4 linked regions of the Homo sapiens genome follow. The protein of the gene in region 1 interacts with the protein of each later gene in a biochemical or structural test. Each region holds a gene or a part of one and is shown in the gene's direction. Other genes may lie near its edges.

What was found. The genes of interacting proteins can lie anywhere in the genome.
Region 2: the proteins of WAS (region 1) and ARPC3 form a complex in vitro, tested with the Homo sapiens proteins (one study listed by BioGRID).
Region 3: the proteins of WAS (region 1) and RPA3 form a complex in vitro, tested with the Homo sapiens proteins (one study listed by BioGRID).
Region 4: the proteins of WAS (region 1) and TCERG1 form a complex in vitro, tested with the Homo sapiens proteins (one study listed by BioGRID).

The regions. Positions count from the first base shown.
Region 1 is NC_000023.11:48,689,363-48,693,528, forward strand, and holds the end of WAS (actin nucleation-promoting factor WAS), read left to right. Parts: coding exon 1-72; intron 73-787; coding exon of another isoform or gene 788-1,107; exon of another isoform or gene 1,108-1,744; coding exon 1,745-1,800; 3' UTR 1,801-2,065; downstream 2,066-4,166. UniProt on the Homo sapiens protein: Effector protein for Rho-type GTPases that regulates actin filament reorganization via its interaction with the Arp2/3 complex. Important for efficient actin polymerization. Possible regulator of lymphocyte and platelet function.
Region 2 is NC_000012.12:110,433,338-110,437,946, reverse strand, and holds the end of ARPC3 (actin-related protein 2/3 complex subunit 3), read left to right. Parts: intron 1-794; coding exon 795-863; intron 864-1,263; coding exon 1,264-1,390; intron 1,391-1,742; coding exon 1,743-1,837; intron 1,838-2,729; coding exon 2,730-2,792; 3' UTR 2,793-3,124; downstream 3,125-4,609. UniProt on the Homo sapiens protein: Component of the Arp2/3 complex, a multiprotein complex that mediates actin polymerization upon stimulation by nucleation-promoting factor (NPF).
Region 3 is NC_000007.14:7,707,623-7,712,723, reverse strand, and holds part of RPA3 (replication protein A 14 kDa subunit), read left to right. Parts: intron 1-5,101. UniProt on the Homo sapiens protein: As part of the heterotrimeric replication protein A complex (RPA/RP-A), binds and stabilizes single-stranded DNA intermediates that form during DNA replication or upon DNA stress.
Region 4 is NC_000005.10:146,481,217-146,486,317, forward strand, and holds part of TCERG1 (transcription elongation regulator 1), read left to right. Parts: exon of another isoform or gene 1-230; coding exon of another isoform or gene 231-354; exon of another isoform or gene 355-1,375; coding exon 1,376-1,511; exon of another isoform or gene 1,512-2,323; coding exon 2,324-2,413; intron 2,414-3,921; exon of another isoform or gene 3,922-4,034; intron 4,035-4,496; exon of another isoform or gene 4,497-4,821; intron 4,822-5,101. UniProt on the Homo sapiens protein: Transcription factor that binds RNA polymerase II and inhibits the elongation of transcripts from target promoters. Regulates transcription elongation in a TATA box-dependent manner.

The DNA.
Region 1 (4,166 bases):
AGAGCTCAGAGGGACTGGTGGGGGCCCTGATGCACGTGATGCAGAAGAGAAGCAGAGCCATCCACTCCTCCGGTGAGCTGATCCTGCCGGGGCCTCAAACCTGGCTCCCAGGGCTAGCACTGGCCTCAAAACAATCCCAGCAGTCACCACCAATAGTGACATCAGCCCCATCTGTTTGACAGCATTAACATGAATCTTGTGTCAGCCTCGTTTTTGACAATGTTAACATTAAGTCATTATGTGACAATAATATAATTAACTCCAACTTTGACAGTAATATTAACATTAATGCCAGGGTGTGTCCACAATATTAATGTCATTCCCACATGTTCAGTACTATTAACATCAGCTGGCCGGCGCGGTGGCTCATGCCTGTAATCCAGGAACTTTGGGAGGCTAAGGCAGGAGGATCACTTGAGCCCAGGAGTTCGAGACCAGCCTGGGCAATATAGTGAGACCTCGTTTCCATAAAAACTAAATTCAAAAAAAGTAGTCAAGCATAGTGGTGTGTGCCTGTGGTCCCAGCTACTTGGGAGGCTGAGGTGGGAGGATTGCTTGACCCTGGGAGGTCAAGGCAGCAGTGATCCATGATTGTGCCACTGCACTCCAGCCTGGGTGACAGAGATCCTATCTCAAAAAAAAAAAAAATTAACCCATTATGTGATGACAATATTATGAAGAACACTATTGTTGACAATATTAATTTTAATTCCATGTATTAACAGATTTACATTAATTCATTATGACGTAACCTAATCTAATCTTTTAAAAAATTTTTTTGAAACAGGGTCTCGCTCTGTGTCCCAGGCTGGAGTACAGTGGTGCAATCATGGCTCAGTGCAGCCTCAACCTCCCAGGCTCAAGCGATCCTCCCGCCTCAGCTCCCAAAGTAGCTGGGACTACAGGCGTGTGCCACCATACCTGGCTAATTTTTGGTGTTTTTTTGGTAGTGATGAGCTCTCACTACCAAGCTCTCACTACTCTCATGTTGCCCAGGCTGCTCTGCAACTCCAGGGCTCAAGCGATCTGCCCCGCCTCAGCCTCCCAGAGTGCTGGGATTACAGGCATGAGCCACCAGGCCTGGCTGTTAACCTAATCTTTTTATAATAATGTTACTATTACTCTCTTAATCTGTCAGCAATACTGTCACTAATCCATTATATGATGCAAATATTAGTATCAACCTACTATAGGAACTTCATCTTTCGACAATGATTTTTTTTTTCTTTTGAGACGGAGTCTTGCTCTGTCACCCAGGCTGGAGTGCAGTGGCGCGATCTTGGCTAACTGCAGACTCTGCCTCCTGGGTTCAAGCGATTCTCCTGCCTCAGCCTTCCGAGTAGCTGGGACTACAGGCACGCCACTACGCCCAGCTAATTTTGATGTTATTGTCATTAACCCCATTATGTGTCAAAAATATTAGCGTTAACCAGACAGGAAGCAATAATATATTATCACACCTTTGCTAATATTATTTAAATTCACCCTATTATGTGATAAATAGGTTAACATTAACCCTTTGTTTGACAATATCTCGACTAACCACATTTTTGACAGCATAAACTTCAACTCCAACTAGAACTCAGACCCCAACTATAATCCCTTTCTTGTCCCAAATGGAAACTCTAACTTGCCCTCCTCTAGCATGAGACCTCAGAACCCCAGGGTCCAGTCCTCACCTCCCAGGCCCTATGAAGCCCCCCACCAACCTCCCAGGGCATCTTATCTTTCTCTTTCCCTCCAGACGAAGGGGAGGACCAGGCTGGCGATGAAGATGAAGATGATGAATGGGATGACTGAGTGGCTGAGTTACTTGCTGCCCTGTGCTCCTCCCCGCAGGACATGGCTCCCCCTCCACCTGCTCTGTGCCCACCCTCCACTCTCCTCTTCCAGGCCCCCAACCCCCCATTTCTTCCCCACCAACCCCTCCAATGCTGTTATCCCTGCCTGGTCCTCACACTCACCCAACAATCCCAAGGCCCTTTTTATACAAAAATTCTCAGTTCTCTTCACTCAAGGATTTTTAAAGAAAAATAAAAGAATTGTCTTTCTGTCTCTCTATAAATCTCAGTCTGTTTACATTCCAAATGTGGGAATGGGGTCCCTTTCCCCCAAAGTCCCTTTTATTCATTTATCCCATTTTATTTATTTAGCCTTACATGTATATATTCATTCATTCATTTATTCCCTCAGTCATTTAGCCTGTATTTCTTTGTTTCCTTCTGCCCCTCTGTCTTTCAACATTTATTGTCAGGTACTATTTTAGGGGCTAGGAATCAAGAAGTGGGAAAAAAAACAGACAAGAATTCCTGCCCTTAGGGGGTGAAATCCACATTCTAGGGGAAGAGACAGACAAGAAACAAGAAATCAAATAGAAATAAAAGATAGCTGCAGATCATGATAAATGCTGTGGAGTGGTAAGGCAGAGATACAGATGAAACAACATTCAGATGGAGCAGTCAGGGATGGTCACTTGGAGTAGGTGATGGTGGTGCTGGACCTAAAGAGAGAGAAATGTCGGCCCAGTTAATATTTGGGGAAAAGGGGTTCCAGGCTGAGGGAGCAGCCAGTGCAAAGGCCCTGAGGTGAGAAAAGGCTTGGCATGAGGCCAGATGTCATGCATTTAATTATTTTTTAAAAAAATAATTCAATCGGCTGGGTGCAGTGGCTCATGCCTGTAATTCCAGCACTTTGGGAGGCCGAGGTGGGCGGATCACCTGAGGTCAGGAGTTCGAGACCAGCCTGGGCAACATGGTGAAACCCTGTCTCTACTAAAAAATACAAAAATTAGCTGGGTATGGTGGTGCACACCTGTAATCCCAGCTCCTAATGGGGGCTGAGGCAGGAGAACTGCTTGAACCCGGGAGGCAGAGGTTGCAGTGAGCTGAGATCGTGCCACTGCACTCTAGCCTGGGCAACAGAGCGAGACTCCGTCTCAAAAAAAAAAAATCATTCAATCAACACAATACTAGATTAAGAGCAGCATACTCAATGAGCAGACCTCCCCATTCTCCATGCCCATAACAACTCACACACCAGGATCTTGATGGGCAGGATCCCCCTCTCATTTTTAAAATTTGGCTCTGCCCAGTTCCCAGTTCAAATCAAGCACTGGCCAATTGCAATGGAAAAGGCAAAGACTTAATTATCAGACAGATCTGCTCTAGAACCCGGGAAAGATGCCTCACCTCTGAGCTTTGGTTTCCGCATCTATACAATGGAGGTAACTGATTTCCAACGGGGATCCCACTGAGTCACCTCTCTGCCTCCTCAGGACTTGCTCTCCCAGAAACAAAGGAGTAACTCAAAAGCGTCCTTGGCGTTTACAGCTATTTCCAAGGGCATAATTAGAAACTGTTGCACAGCAAAGCCTAGAATTGAGCTCCCTGCCCCTTCCGATTTCTGAAATCTGGTGAATTCGAGATCTCAGACATCCTACCTTTAGAGGAGGAGAAAAAGAGAAAGGTAGTGGGGAGGAAGATAAAGGTGAGGGAGACTCCAGAGAGGGCAGGCTTCTTCAGTCTGCAAGAGCAACGGAAGAATTTCTAGGTGGAAAGGGGAACTCCCCCAAGCTAGAGAAGGAGGGAGTCTCAGGTTTCCTTTAATTCATTATTCTTTACACCGCAACACCACTCCCCACCCCACCCTGACCAGGTCCCCAGATGGGCACTGAGTCTAGGAAGGATCCATCAGCATCATTTATCCCTACTCCCAGTCCCCCACAGAAATCTTAGAAATCCAGTGTTCTGGTTGGCCGGGCGCGGTGGCTCACGCCTGTAATCCCAGCACTTCGGGAGGCCGAGATGGGCGGATCATGAAGTCAAGAAATAGAGACCATCCTGGCTAACATGGTGAAACCTCATCTCTACTAAAAATACAAAAAATTAGCCGGGCGTGGTGGCACATGCCTGTAGTCCCAGCTACTCAGGAGGCTGAGACAGGGGAATTGCTTGAACCCGAGAGGCAGAGTTGTGGTGAGCTGAGATCACGCTACTACACTCCAGCCTGGGCAACAGAGCGAGACTCCGTCTCAAAAAAAAAATGTGGTATACACAATGGAATACTATTCGGCCATAAAAAACAATGAAATCATGTCTTTTGCAGCAACATGAATGAAACTGAAGGCCATTAATTTGAGTGAAACAACTCAGAAACAGAAAGACAAA
Region 2 (4,609 bases), on another chromosome or scaffold:
ATTTTCTTTTTGGTTAGGTCAAGACATTGAGATTATGGAGTTCTTTGGGAGCAAGTCAAATGTGAAATAGTTGCTTCCTCCTTTAGAGTAATGACTATTTCTGTTCTCGGCAGAGACCCTGAAGGGAAGGGTTTTTAAAAATTAGCCAACCATATGGAGCAGTTCAGGCTTTCCAGGCAGCTTTGTTACTTCTTCCTATACAGTGAGGGGCTGTTGACACAGATCCTTGGGAACCCTGGGGCAAGGGGAGCCGAGAAAAACAAGAGAGAGCAGCCACTCAGCCGAGCGTGGTGGCTCATGCCTGTAATCCCAGCACTTTGGGAGGCTGAGGTGGACAGATCACTTGAGGTCAGGAGTTCGAGACCAACCTGGCCAACATGGTGAAACCCCGTCTCTACTAAAAATAGAAAAATTAGCCAGGCGTGGTGGCGGGCACCTGTAATCCCAGCTACTCGGGAGGCTGAGGCAGGAGAATTGCTTGAACCTGGGAGGTGGAGGTTGCAGTGAGCTGAGATTGTGCCACTGCACTCCAGCCTGGGCAACAGAGCAAGACTCCGTCTCAAAAAAAAAAAGCAGCTGCACATCTCAGAGTGGGGCTTGTGCCTTCCTCCCAGGGGCAGACGGAAAAGGAGACTGAGGAGACTGTGCATTTGGAGAATGGGAGTTTTGATGTGATAGTGGCTGTCCTACCACTGCATTCAGCAGATAATCAGAAGACAAAGATGGAATGCATACATTGCACATCATTGTTATGTTTTGATAACTGTTTTTAAGTCTTCTTTTTCTCCCTGTAGAATGAAGCTGATAGGACCTTGATATATATAACTCTCTACATTTCTGAATGTCTGAAGAAACTGCAAAAGGTAATTAAACTTGGATGATTGTATATCAGGAAAACAAATTGCTGAGAGGCATTTACCCTCCCAGTCATCTGGGATTTGTTGAGACTTTAAAGACAAGTAGAAAATATTTCCTCTGACTTACAGCATGGACTTAAGAGAAAAATTTGAATTTAGTTACCTGAACTTGTAGTATAATTGACTGACACAAAGATAAAAGTAGTGGTGTTTTAAGGCTTTGAATATATTTTCTCAAGACAGAAATCTTGACAGAGGAATTCCTTTTAAGCCCTTGACTCAAGGGTTCTTAACCTGGGGTCCAAGGATAGAATTCTTCTTTTCCCTGTAAAATATGTGTGTGTGTGTGTGTGTGTGTGTGTGTGTGTGTGTGTGTGTATATATATATATATATTTTTTTTTCCAGTGCAATTCCAAAAGCCAAGGTGAGAAAGAAATGTATACGCTGGGAATCACTAATTTTCCCATTCCTGGAGAGCCTGGTTTTCCACTTAACGCAATTTATGCCAAACCTGCAAACAAACAGGAAGATGGTAAGAACAGGTCTCTATCCTCACTCTGTGACACAAGAAGATTTTCTCCATTTGACTTCCTACCACCCCTCTTTTTCTTGCCTTGATTCATGTACAGATTGAGAGTGAAATCATAGGAAGTACATTATCTTATTAGTCACTCTCACAAACGATTCTTGGCAACAAGGATGACATGCAGAAAATCTTTTGAACAAAAACAAATATAGTTATAAAACTATCTGGACTGTCATTTCTATTTTGTATCCTGTTCAAATGTATAAAAATGTATTACCACAGTGAGCATCCAGAGCTGCAACCAGTACATTTGGGATGTATTTGCAAATACAGTTTTTTTTAAATTGTTCTGTTTTAGAAGTGATGAGAGCCTATTTACAACAGCTAAGGCAAGAGACTGGACTGAGACTTTGTGAGAAAGTTTTCGACCCTCAGAATGATAAACCCAGCAAGGTAAGACCCTCTTCTTGCCTGCTTAATTGGTAAATCACCTTTTATCCCATAGCCACCATTGAACACACTAAGGTCTTCCATTGCAAGAATATTTTTAATTTCTGCATTGCAATGTTGCTTAACTTCCAGTATATGTCTAGTATGTAATATGAGTTCACTGAATCACACTAAATAATGAATTGCAGGCCGGGCGCAGTGGCTCACGCCTGTAATCCCACCACTTTGGGAGGCCGAGGCGAGTGGATCACTTGCGGTCAGGAGTTCGAGACCAGCCTGGCCAACATGGTGAAACCCCCATCTCTACTGAAAATACAAAAAATTAGCCAGGCATGATGGTGTGCACCTGTCATCTCAGCTACTCAGGAGGCTGAGACAAGAGAGTCGCTTGAACCCAGGAAGTGGAGGTTGCAGTGAGCCAAGATCATGCCATTACACTCCAGCCTGAATGACAGAGTGAGACTTTGTCTAAAAAGGGTTTATGGCCAGGCGCGGTGGCTCACGCCTCTAATCCCAGCACTTTGGGAGGCCAAAGCAGGCGGATCATGAGGTCAGGAGATTGAGACCATCCTGGCTAACATGGTGAAACCCCGTCTCTACTAAAAAATACAAAAAATTAGCCAGGCGTGGTGGCAGGCGCCTGTAGTCCCAGCTACTGGGGAGGCTAAGGCAGGAGAATGGCATGAACCCAGGAGGCGGAGCTTGCAGTGAGCCAAGATCACACCACTGCACTCCAGCACTCCAGCCTGGGCGACAGAGCGAGACTCCGTCTCAAAAAAAAAAAAAAAAAGTTTATAAGAGATTCCAGACTAATGTGAAATTTTATTATTAAATAAATGCAAATTCTATTGTAATTTGACCCCGCTGTTCATTCTGTGTTGTTCTCTCTTGTTAGTGGTGGACTTGCTTTGTGAAGAGACAGTTCATGAACAAGAGTCTTTCAGGACCTGGACAGTGAAGGGAGCCCGGGCAGCCACCGTCTCCAGAGCCCTGGGCAGCATTTTCCAGCAAGATGTACACAATCTTTTGCCTTTATTTCGTAAAGTTTTATACAGAAGAGAGAAGAGCATGTCTTTACTTGAAAAACTCTTGATCAAGAATTTGGGTGGGAGAAAAGAAAGTGGGTTATCAAGGGTGATTTGAAATTTTCTGCAGCATTAAAGCTGGCGCTTAATAAGAATAAGTAATAATAAAGAAATTTCTAACATTCCATGTCAGAAAAACTTTATTGCCAGTCTTTGACATTCACTTACAATTTGTTTTGAGATAAAATTCACATTCCATAATGCCCTTTTAAAGTGTACAATTCACTTTTTTTAGTATATACATGAAGTTTTACAACCATCCCCAGTAAATCCAGAGCATTTTCATCACCCCGGTGTAGTGAACCTGCACTCTTTAGCAGCCACCCCACCCCACATTCCTCCCCAAGCCCCCTGTCCCTCCCACCCCTCCTCCCAGTATTAATCTACTTTCTGTCTCTATGGATTTGCTTATTCTGGATAATTCATGTAAATTGAATTTTTTATACAACATGTGGCCTTTTATGTCTAGCTTCTTTGACTTAATGTTTTCTAATTCATCCATGTTAGAGCATATATCAGTGCTTTCTTTTCTCTTTTTCTTTTTTTTCTCTCTGTGTATATGTATGAAATAAAATATACTAATATGGCCAGGCGCAGTGGATCACGCCTGTAATCCCAGCACTTTGGGAGGCCCAGGCGGGCAGATCACCTGAGGTCGGGAGTTTGAGACTAGCCTGACTAACACGGAGAAACCTGGTCTCTACTAAAAATACAAAAACCAGCCGGGCCGGGTGCGATGGCTCACGCCTGTAATCCCAGCAATTTGGGAGGCCCAGGCAGGCGGCTCACCTGAGGTCAGGAGTTTGAGACCAGCCTGACCAATATGATGAAACAATGTCTCTACTAAAAATACAAAAATTAGCCGGGCATGGTGGCACGCGCCCGTAATCCCAGCTATTCGGGAGGCTGACACAGAAGAATCGCTTGAACCTGAGAGGCAGAGGTTGCAGTGAGCCGAGATCGCACCATTGCACTCCAGCTTGGGCAACAAGAGCGAAACTCCATCTCAAAAAAAAAAAAAAAAAAAAAAAAAACTCAGCTGGGCGTGGTGGCGCATGCCTGTAATCCCAGCTACTCGGGAGGCTGAGGCAGGAGAATCGCTTAAACCTGGGAGGCAGAGGTTACGGTGAGCCGAAGGTTGCGGTAGGCTGAGATCGCGCCATTACACTCCAGCCTGGGCAACGAGTGAAACTTCGTCTCAAAAAAAAAAAACGGCCAGACGCGGTAGCTCACGCCTGTAATCCCAACACTTTGGGAGGCCAAGGCGGGCGGATCATAAGGTCAGGAGAATCGAGACCATCCTGGCTAACACAGTGAAACCTCCGTCTCTACTAAAAAAATACAAAAAATTAGCCAGGCGTGGTGGCGAGCGCCTGTAGTGCCAGCTACTCAGGAGGCTGTGGAAGGGGAATGGCGTGAACCTGGGAGGCGGAGCTTGCAGTGAGTGGAGATTGCACCACTGCACTCCAGCCTGGGCAAGAGAGTGAGACTCCATCTCCAAAAAAAAAAAAAAAAACCTAGAGTTTATGGTAGTACTTGAATGATTAGAGTATTTGCATTTTGTTTTTACGGGTGAATATATGATTTTAATATGTGGGTTAAATGCTCTTGAGCATCTGTTTAAAGACTTGAATTACAAGCTAGCTAAATACCACAGTTCACACAGCAAAAGGAATGGATATGTGAAAAC
Region 3 (5,101 bases), on another chromosome or scaffold:
TGACACTTCTCTTCAACATACTAGAGGTCCTAGACCATGCAGTAAGACCAAAAGATAAAATGAAACCACAAGGATTTGAATGAAACAAAACTCACTATTCACAGAGGTTATAATTACGTACTTAGAAAATTCAAAAGAATCTAAAGATGAATTATGGGAAGTAAATATTTTATCAAGATGGTTGCTACAAGTATCAGCTACATGTTTCTATGCTGGCAACAAACAGAAAATACAACTTTAAAAATATTTACTATAATAATAAAACAAAAAAGCACTCTAAGAATAAATCTGACAAAAGCAGAAATGTGATTTTTATGAAAAATGCATGGCAATTTTACAAAAATGTATTAAGGAAACCTAAGCAAATGGACAGAAATATATTTCTGAAGAAGACTAAATATTGTAAATATAGCAATTCTCCCCTAAATTAATCTATATGTTCAATAAAATTTCAACAAAAATCACATCAGAGTGGGTAGGTTTGAGTGATTATCCATCTGTTATTCATTTTTTATTTATTTGGCATAAGATCAACTGATGCTTCATTATATAGAAAAGCAGAGAACAAAGGAAGGTTGAGATGGTTTTAAAGGATGGTAATATAATGAGCTTTATGACATTGGCTAAGAGAGAGAAAAATAGCCTCATAAAGTAGGAGAACCAAAGATACTATATATGTAAGAGTAAGCTTGGAAGATACGTGAAGAAAAGAAGATGAATTAATCCAAAATAGTACTAAGAAAATAGGTTATCCCTACAAAAAAAAATTAAAATCGGATCGCTATACCACACTATAACCAAAGTTAACCATAGAGCTATAAGAAGATGCTATAGGAAGATGACTTTCTGATCTCCAAGAAGGGACTTTTTAAATCAGACTGAAATATGAAAGTTAAGGAAAAGTTTTATATATTTTAAAACTGTCACATCAAAATGTCTCTTCATTAACAGATAAAAAGAAAAACATAAGTCATTAAAATGCAACAAAATTTGTAACTAGATCCCCTTAGAATCAACTTTTTAAATGACAGACAATACAGCAGGGAAAAGAGATCAATAGTGATTTTACTGAGCAAAAAAACCACATATGACTATTAAACATAAATAAAAATGTCCAATTCCATTATAAACAAGAAAATGTAAATTAAAAACACAAGATACCATTTTCTAACCAACAGACTGATAAAAATTTAAGTCTCACAGTATTACATGTTAAAAAGGATAGAGTATAATATCCTTGAAGTACAATATCCTTAAAAAGGATAGAGTATAATATGAAAAGGATAGAATTTTCATATACCACTTGGGAAAAAAATTTGCCATGATTTACTAAAGTTAACATGTGCATAGCCTGTAATTCCTCCCGGAAATAAAATCTAGAGGAAAGCTCACATATGTGCACCAGGAGACATGTACAAGGATGTTTGTAACAGCATCATGTTGTCTTTTAATTGAACTTTTTCAGATAATTCTAGATTCACAGGCAGATTGGAGAAATTATATGGAAATATCCCATGTAGCTTCTACCTGGTTTACCACAATGGCAACATCTTGCAAAACTATAGTTCAATACCACAACCAGGATATTTCATTCACACAGACCAGATACAGAACATCTCCATAACCACCAGAATCCCCAGTGTTATCCTTCTATAGCCACACACACTTGCCTCTAACTTTCACCCCATCCTTACCCACCGGCGACCAATGATTTCTCTATTTTTTGTGTACAGTTTGGTCATTTCAAGAATGCTACATAAATGAAGTCATACAGTACGTTACCTTTAGGGATTGGCTCTTTTCACTCAGCATAATTCTCTGGAGATTCATCCAGGTTGTTGTATATATCAACAGTTTGTTACTTCTTCTTGCTGAGTATTATTCCATGATATAGATATACCATAGATTTAACCATTCACCTGTTGAAGGATATTTGGTGTGTATCCAGTTTGGGTCTATTATGAATAAAATTGCTATAAATACTCAGTTTTATGCACATATACGTCTTCAATTTCTCTGGGATAAATGCCCAAAGTGTAATTGCTGAGTCGTATAGTAACTGCATATTCAGCTTTTCAGAAACTGTCTATTTTCCAGAGTAATTGTACCATTTTACATTCCTATCATCAATAAGTGATCCAGATTCTCTTCATCCTTACCAGCATTTGGTGTTATTACTATTTATTTTAGCTATTCTGATACAGGTTTGTAGAGACCTATCATTATGGTTTTAATTTGCATTATGGCTAATGACACTTATTCATGTGCTTATTTGCCATATGTATATCCTCTTCAGTGAAATGTCTCTTCATGTCTTTTGCCCATTTTCTAATTTGGTTTTATGTTTTTTTGTTTTTTGTTTTTTACTGCTGAGTTTTGCAAGTACTTATTCTAGGGACTAGTCCTTTCATTTTGGGCAATTTTTGCATAAAGTGTGAGACACAGATCAAGGTGTTTTGTTTTTTCTTCTGCCTACTAATGTTCAGTAACAGCACTGTTTTTAGGAAAACAAAACAAAACCCCAAATGTTCATCATCAGAACAGATATATAAATTGTGGTATATTCATCAATGGAATGTCAAATAAAAATGAAAGAACTAAAGATACATAGAGCAATATAGATGAGACCAGATACATGATACTGAGTGAGAGAGGCAAATTGCTGAAGAACATATTGTACATACATTGTGAGTGACTCGATTTATATATGGTTGTAAAACATACAAAACTACACATATGAAAAATATGTTAACACTATTTAAAAAGAGACCCCAAAAAAGCAGAATTTAAAGAGTGGAATTTACCTCTGAGGTGGGAGTAAGGAGAAGACTTAGAGAACTTCAAGGTTAACAAGAAATTATATTTCTTAAACCAATTGGTGGGTACACAGGTGTTCATCACATTGTCATTCTGAATATGTTCTCATTATTTAAAAAAAAAAACTTTAAAAGGTTATTTTTCAAATTGAGATTTGCATAAGCAAGAGCTAAGAATAATAGCTGGTAAGATGTCACTTTAAAGATCTTACCCTCAGCAGGTAAAAAAACAGTTATTATAAATTGTAATACAGGAACATACCAAACAGACCCTTGTTAGGGAAAGATGACTTCTGAGCAAACAGGTGACTTCTGACAAACCATTCTTATCCCACAAGCCTCATTTTGCCCTTGCAGGCTCAGCGCCTGACTTTTCTTTCAACTTCAAGTCCCCCAGTCATTCACCTTCTCTCCACACAGTTCCTTCTGCTTTGTTTTACAGCATTCTGCCCTCCTCGGGTGGCAATGCTTTAAGTCAACACCAACATCTGACCTCTCCAGCTTATCCACAGGACTTATCTTCTTAAGAGATGGTGTGAGGACAAAGGGTGAGCCTTCCTGACTTGAATTAATGACGACCCACAATTGAACAAGTTTCTAATGTTCATATTTACAAAGAATATAGTCTAGAATCTCAGTTAAATCCATATTAAAAGTAACCCCATGCATAACATTATTCACACATATAATTGAGATAAATCTCAGCACACAGATAGGAAAACAAAGACAGTCAATTTCAAACAACTAATAAAATTATTTAACCATTACAAAATCCCTTAACCATGCCGAATTTTGCAAAATATCTAAGAAATTATTATGCAAGACACTGAAAGATGTGTTATTAAGTAGTTAATTGGTATTTTTAATAGTTAGGACTGTTTTCCTCTTCTGTCTTCTCCTCCTCTCCTCTTTTCCTCCCACACTTTCTCCCTTCCTCTCCCTTTCTCTCTCTCTCCCTCTCTCTCTCTCACACACACACAGACACACAAACACAAACACACACCCCTTGCTGGTTAAAAACTTCTTAAAAACATACAACTGCCTGTATTTGTATATATACATATGCATTTGGTGTCTTGTTATAACTTCCCTTTAAACCACATATTAATGGGCAAAAAAAGTCCTAACATTCTATCTGTTGAAAAGCTGGGTCTGTCTCCAATAAACATAGTTGCTCGTTTCAGTCAAATCAGCTTATTTACTAATTATAAAATATAATTTTAAGATGGCCAAAACGAAGTAGTAGGAAAAGTATATTACTACTTTAATGGAATTTGCTTCTATTTTTGAGGTCTGTCCCAAAAGGACAAATATGTTGACTTATTTTTAAAGGTTTCCTTTCAATGTTTCAAGTTATAAAGCACTGCTGCTTTTGTAAAAGATCCTATTAATTTCTTAACAGAGTGTTAGACCTGATCCCCTTATATCCAAAATGGTAAATGCTGTCTAATAAATACATGGGTGATTGAATAAGGGTCACTGACACTTGGGTAACTGTTTAATACAGAAACAATTTATAATATATATCTCTCTACAAAACTAAAGCTGAGCAATCAATAATTTTGTCTTCCTTCGTCTACAAGTAGCTTATTCAACATTAACTAGTAAACCAAGGGTGAAAGGGAGGGTTGTAAATCACGAAGAAAAGATTCATTTTATTCTTAATTCCCACTTGAATCTATGTAAAATGTTAAGTTACAGACAGTTAAGGAGAAGCTGTTGTGTTTGAATATGTAATTGCTATTTAGATGATAATGGCGTGGATGTCGCAGCAGAACCATGATCCAAATTTGAATAAGGTCTTAATGAAGGAGGCTAAGAGAAGAATGACGACTGAAATACAACAGTGTCAGCAACAGACCTTAATGAAGCAAATTACTTTCAGTACCTTTGTGATTCAGGAGGAGCCGCATTAAAAAAGTGACAACTAAAGGATCAAAAGCAGGACCTTTGCAAACTAAACATGCTTAAAACATGACATCACTGTCTGGGCAACAAGGCATTGTGGAAAGCAGCCTCAATGTTTGGGTTTTACAGCTCACATAGCAAAATAACTACATTAAAAGATCTGGCTAGGCAAACCAGTTTCCTTAGAAAGCATCTTTATATTTCAAGTTAATGACATTTCTGAACAGAAAAGGACTACAAATGCCCAAAGATACCTTGGCCGATTTTTAAAAAGCATTATATATTAACACTAAGAATAGCTTTAAGGCAAAATTAAGCCAGATTTTGGATCACAGAAAACTAAAGAGGTCTTTTTTAAATTCCAAAATATCATTTAG
Region 4 (5,101 bases), on another chromosome or scaffold:
CTGTTTTTCCTGGCTTAGTTTTTCTTTTATTTCCTTTATTGAGATAGATAGTGATAGTTTGTATTGTGACATTTTCATTTAGTATAGTTCTATAAAGGTTATTTGTTTTTATTAGTTACTTCTTGGATGTCTTTTAACTCTAACTATTTAAATAGTTTTAAAATTATTATTATAAGAGGGTATATTGTTTGGCAAATTGCTTTTACCTGTTTGTTTTGTGCATATCTTAGGTCACAGACTATCTCGCTAAGTTCCTGCAGGTCACGGACTATGTCTTCTATTTCTTTTGATTCATTGCCTAAGTTGCTAAGTACCTCTCACTTGCATTTGTGGGTTAGCCTTAGTTCCATTTAAATCTCTGGGGCTACCTACAGTTTCCTGTATAGCATGCTTTTGAATTTCCACATGTTCTGTTTTCCTAATTCCCTTAAGTTTGTATAGGGAATAAGAGCCAATTTTTAAAATATACTTAGCAGATCATATTTAAGAAGGAAGATCTGCTAAAATACACCCAGATATTATTGAATTACATACTTTTTTGGATTATTTACGTGAATGGGCCTTTTTCATAGTGCATATATTTGAGAGGTGCCGTGATTCCATGTTTACAATTTCACTTGAGTACCACACAGAAACAGGGTTGCCCTTACACCTGAGGTGCATTTTTGGAGGAACAAGAAGTAGTTTAGTCATTGATGAACAGTTCTAATTCCACCTAACTACTCCTGGGCCCATGTTGCTCTCTGGGACCTGTCCTTCAACTTAAATCTCAACTTATCACCCAGAAAGTGAGTAATAAAAAGTCAGGTAGGTAAGGTATATATCTTACATATTCACTTGGCCAAGATTGCAGATATTTTAGTTTTATTTTTAAAATGAATGTTTGAGATTACTAAAACATTATACCACTTAATACCAATTTTTATTAGATTTTACAAAATATTTTATGTGTTTATAATGTAAAACATTTTGGAAAATACTGTTTTTTCTATATTTCAAGAACTAAAAAAATTATATTTTGTGCTGTTTGATTCTGACACATAGAGGTTTACTGCAGTGTTAAACTTTTTTTTTTTTAAGTAAGGTTGCTCCCTTTTTATGTTATTAACCAGTGTCAGGGAGAGACAGCCCATTAAAGGTGTATTTTTTTCCTAATAATGTAGCCATTGTAAATCATTAGAAGCCCATTTTAATTTTGTTATTATGAAAGTTATTTATCCCTTAGAGTTCATTTGAAACCCTCAATATAATTTGTTTTTGCCAAAAATATGCTGCTCAGTAGTGAGTCTTGAAAATTCCTTTGATTTTAAGATTTCTAATAAGATCTGAGAATTAATATTTTGTCAGTTGATGTCTTATATTTTATTTTTTATAGGAGAGACGATAATAAAGACATTGACTCAGAGAAAGAAGCTGCCATGGAAGCTGAAATTAAAGCTGCCCGAGAAAGGGCCATTGTCCCTCTGGAGGCTCGAATGAAGCAGTTCAAGGACATGCTGCTAGAGAGAGGGGTCAGAAAACAATCTTTGGGGGAGATATTTCTGTTTTGTATAAGTAATATAAATATGTCTTGCTAAAAGGTCAAATCTAAGGTTAGTGCTCATGTTATGGGGGGGGATAAGGGGATTTTTAAAATTACTGTACATTTTTTGCAACAGCCTTTTTCTTGGCTAATCTTATCATATTTAACTAAATGCCATTTTACTGTCCTTTTAAGTACAAATAACACTTAACATTTATTGGGTCATTAAATTGTGGTGAGTAATATAAGACGAGTATTAACATTACAGAATGGCGGACTGCTTGGGATAGGTAAGGTATATATGATTATTCTTCCTTTAATATCTTGAGAATGGCTTTTGTTAAAGGAGAACTGATACTTTGTGATATTATTATTTGCAATTTAATTGAGAAGGGATTTCAACTATTTGGTTATATTCACAGATTCATTTGAATAAGTAAAATTGTTCAATTTTAAATCACAACATTGTTCACAAGATTGGAGCAAGCATGAGAAATCAAAATATAAATCTTCAAGGCTTTTTCTGATGTACTGATTTTTAAAATGTCACACAGTAGTAGTTATTTTAATGAGTAATTAAGTGTCTGTTATTTCTATATAATATAGGAATGTTCAGAGCCAATTAGTGTGGAAATTTGCTATTGCTAGCCTCCCACTGCTTGTCATTTATTAGTGATGGAAACTTCAGTATGGTTTTATGTCTCCTTTATAAACAGATATCCTGTAGATTTCAAGCAAAATTATGACCTTTATATTTTTAGAGGAGACTTAATTATGAGGCAATACGTTTTTATTTTAAAGGTGTCTGCTTTTTCAACGTGGGAGAAGGAGTTGCACAAGATAGTTTTTGATCCCCGGTACTTACTTCTCAATCCTAAAGAGAGAAAACAGGTAAAAGGAAAATGGCATTAACTAAGAATGTATATCTCTTGCCAACATAGTTTTTAAATTATAAGGAATAAAGTACCATCCCTTTTTTTTCTGATACAGCATTTCAAAAATATAGTCTTGCATCTTAGAACATATTATGTGTCTGTGTGTGGACATTTCTACTTCAAAATTCTTGGATATTTTTGCCCTTATGAGCATGGCTGTTGTCTTGTAAACATTTTGTCCTTATGCCTCATATACCTAGGTTATGTGTAGTATGGTTTTAAAATTGATTTCAAATGCATTTACTAATTTGCTTGTTTGGGCCAATGATGCAAATTTAGAGTAGAAAAATAGCAAAATACAGATGAGTAAAAAGGATAAAAAAGCTACTGTAATCCCAACTAATAGATATGACTACCGTTGAACACTGGTTTATTATTGAATACTGAACAGCCTTCTTGACCATTATGTGTCAGTATGTACATATATATGTGTGTGTGTGTCCTGTAGATAGTACTTGAACATAGGTTTATGTCTTATACACAACTGCATATACAAAGTTCACATCTAAGTAGCATCTGTTAAAATATCTGTTTCCATCATAAACTCAGAAAAACAGTGGATACTTAAGGGTCCCTGTTGAATTAGTGTTGCTTTTTATTCCCATGATGATTCAGTGACACATATCATTTCGTGATTGCCTCTTCTAAAGCATTGCACACTTCCAACTTACTTAATTTCTGAATTACCTGAACTATCCTGACACTGATCTCCATAAAATGGTGAGTATGTGGAACCACTTGCTATAGTGCTGTTAAGCTGTAAGATTTCATTTGGTAACAGTAGTGCCCATCTTTGATATTTTTAATGTAACAATTGAAATAATTCTTCACATGGTGTGTACCATTATGCATGTAGGTCTAATCATGGACTTGAATGAAGGGAGAAAATTTACAATGTGCCAGATATGTATTTTAGTACTTGGAATAGAAAGACATAACTTCCTTAATGTATTTGCATCTTCATTTTAAGCTTTGTATCTTTTTTAAAAAACAAACTCTGTGTGAGTTTTTTATTCTCATTTCAGTTTATGGCTCTATCAAAATTTATAAATTAGCCTTGATTCCTTACTTTTCCCACTTCCCCTTTACAGTCTTATCAGCAAATCTATAATCTACCTTCAAAAAATTTTCAAAATCTCACCTTTTATTAATCATTTCCCCCATTAACACCCTAATCCAAGCCACCATAAACAACCCTTATCATCTGTGTAGCCTATTGTTGATCTCCTTCATTCCATCTGTTCTTGTTCCTCTTTAGTCAAGTTCTTTTTCCACACAGCAGCCAGGCTAATTTTAAAGTTTAAGTGATACTAAATTAAGTCACTGTTCCCTTGCTTAAAACTGTTTAGTGCTTTCCATTTCATTGAGAATAAAATTGAAGCTCTTTTCATGGTCTCTAATATTCTACATAGACTTACCCCTGTATACCTCTTGATGGTCTTTTTTAATGTCTGTTGATTACAGCCACACTGGCCCTGATATTACTTGAACAAGCCAGTCATTCTGGTGTTTGCTATTCCTTCTGCCTGGACTGTTTTTCCTCCAGGTGTTAGTACAGCCAGCTTCATTTCATTAAGGTACTTGTCCCAGTGCCTTCTAATCAATCTAAGTATTGTCTCTTTGCCTTTTCTAATTTCTTTATGGTGCTCATGGCTCTAATTGTATAAAATTATGTTTTTATTATTTGTCTCCTCCTCCTGCAAAATATAAATTGTATGAGGCTAGAAACTTTGTCTTCATTGCTTTATTTGTAGTGCCTGGAACATTGCCTAATCTAAATATCTCTGAAGGCTTTAAAACTTTTATGACGTATTCCTCCTGGTACTGAGTGTTATAGTGAAATTAGAAGTAACATATTGAGAACTATAGTTCTTTCCCAATTTTTGAAGCATTCTATAAGCTGATGGTGGTATCTCCTTAATAGAATTACGTTTGAAAAGAGAAAATATTATTCTAGTGTTCTGTTTTCAATAAAATCTCTAGTTAAAAGTTCTCATGCCATTTATTTATTTATTTATTTTATGCATCTATTTATTTAGAGATGGAGTCTTGCTCTGTTGCCCAGACTGGAGTGCAGTGGCGCCATCTCATCTTACTGCAGCCTCTGCCTCTCAGGGTTCAAGTGATCCTCCCACCTTAGCCTCCCAAGTAGCTGGGATTACAAGCGTGCACCACCATGCCCGGCTAATTTTTCTATCTTTAGTAGAGACAGAGTTTCACCATGCTGGCCAGGCTGGTCTTGAACACCGGACCTCAAGTAATCCGCCTGCCTTGGCCTCACAAAGTGTTGGGATTACAGGCGTGAGCCACCACGCCTGGCCTTTCATGGCTTTTAAATAGAATTCTTCTCTCAACAATCAGAATGTAAGAACTGAGAAGAAGTAGTAGTTAACATTTGGCATTTAAAAATAAACACGTTTTTTGAATACTTGGTTTTATTATTTGCATAGGAGTATAAAATGAACAACCAGAAAGGTGCTAGGTTGCACATTACACATTTGCACTTTGTAATTTCATATTTGCAGTTTGTGCTTTGATTTAGAAAACACTAATAACTTCATTGGAAATGCCTTGTAATACAAAATTATATTTCAGTTGTCCTTTTCTAGTTATTTGTAGATTCGTGTACATTCTGTATCATTAT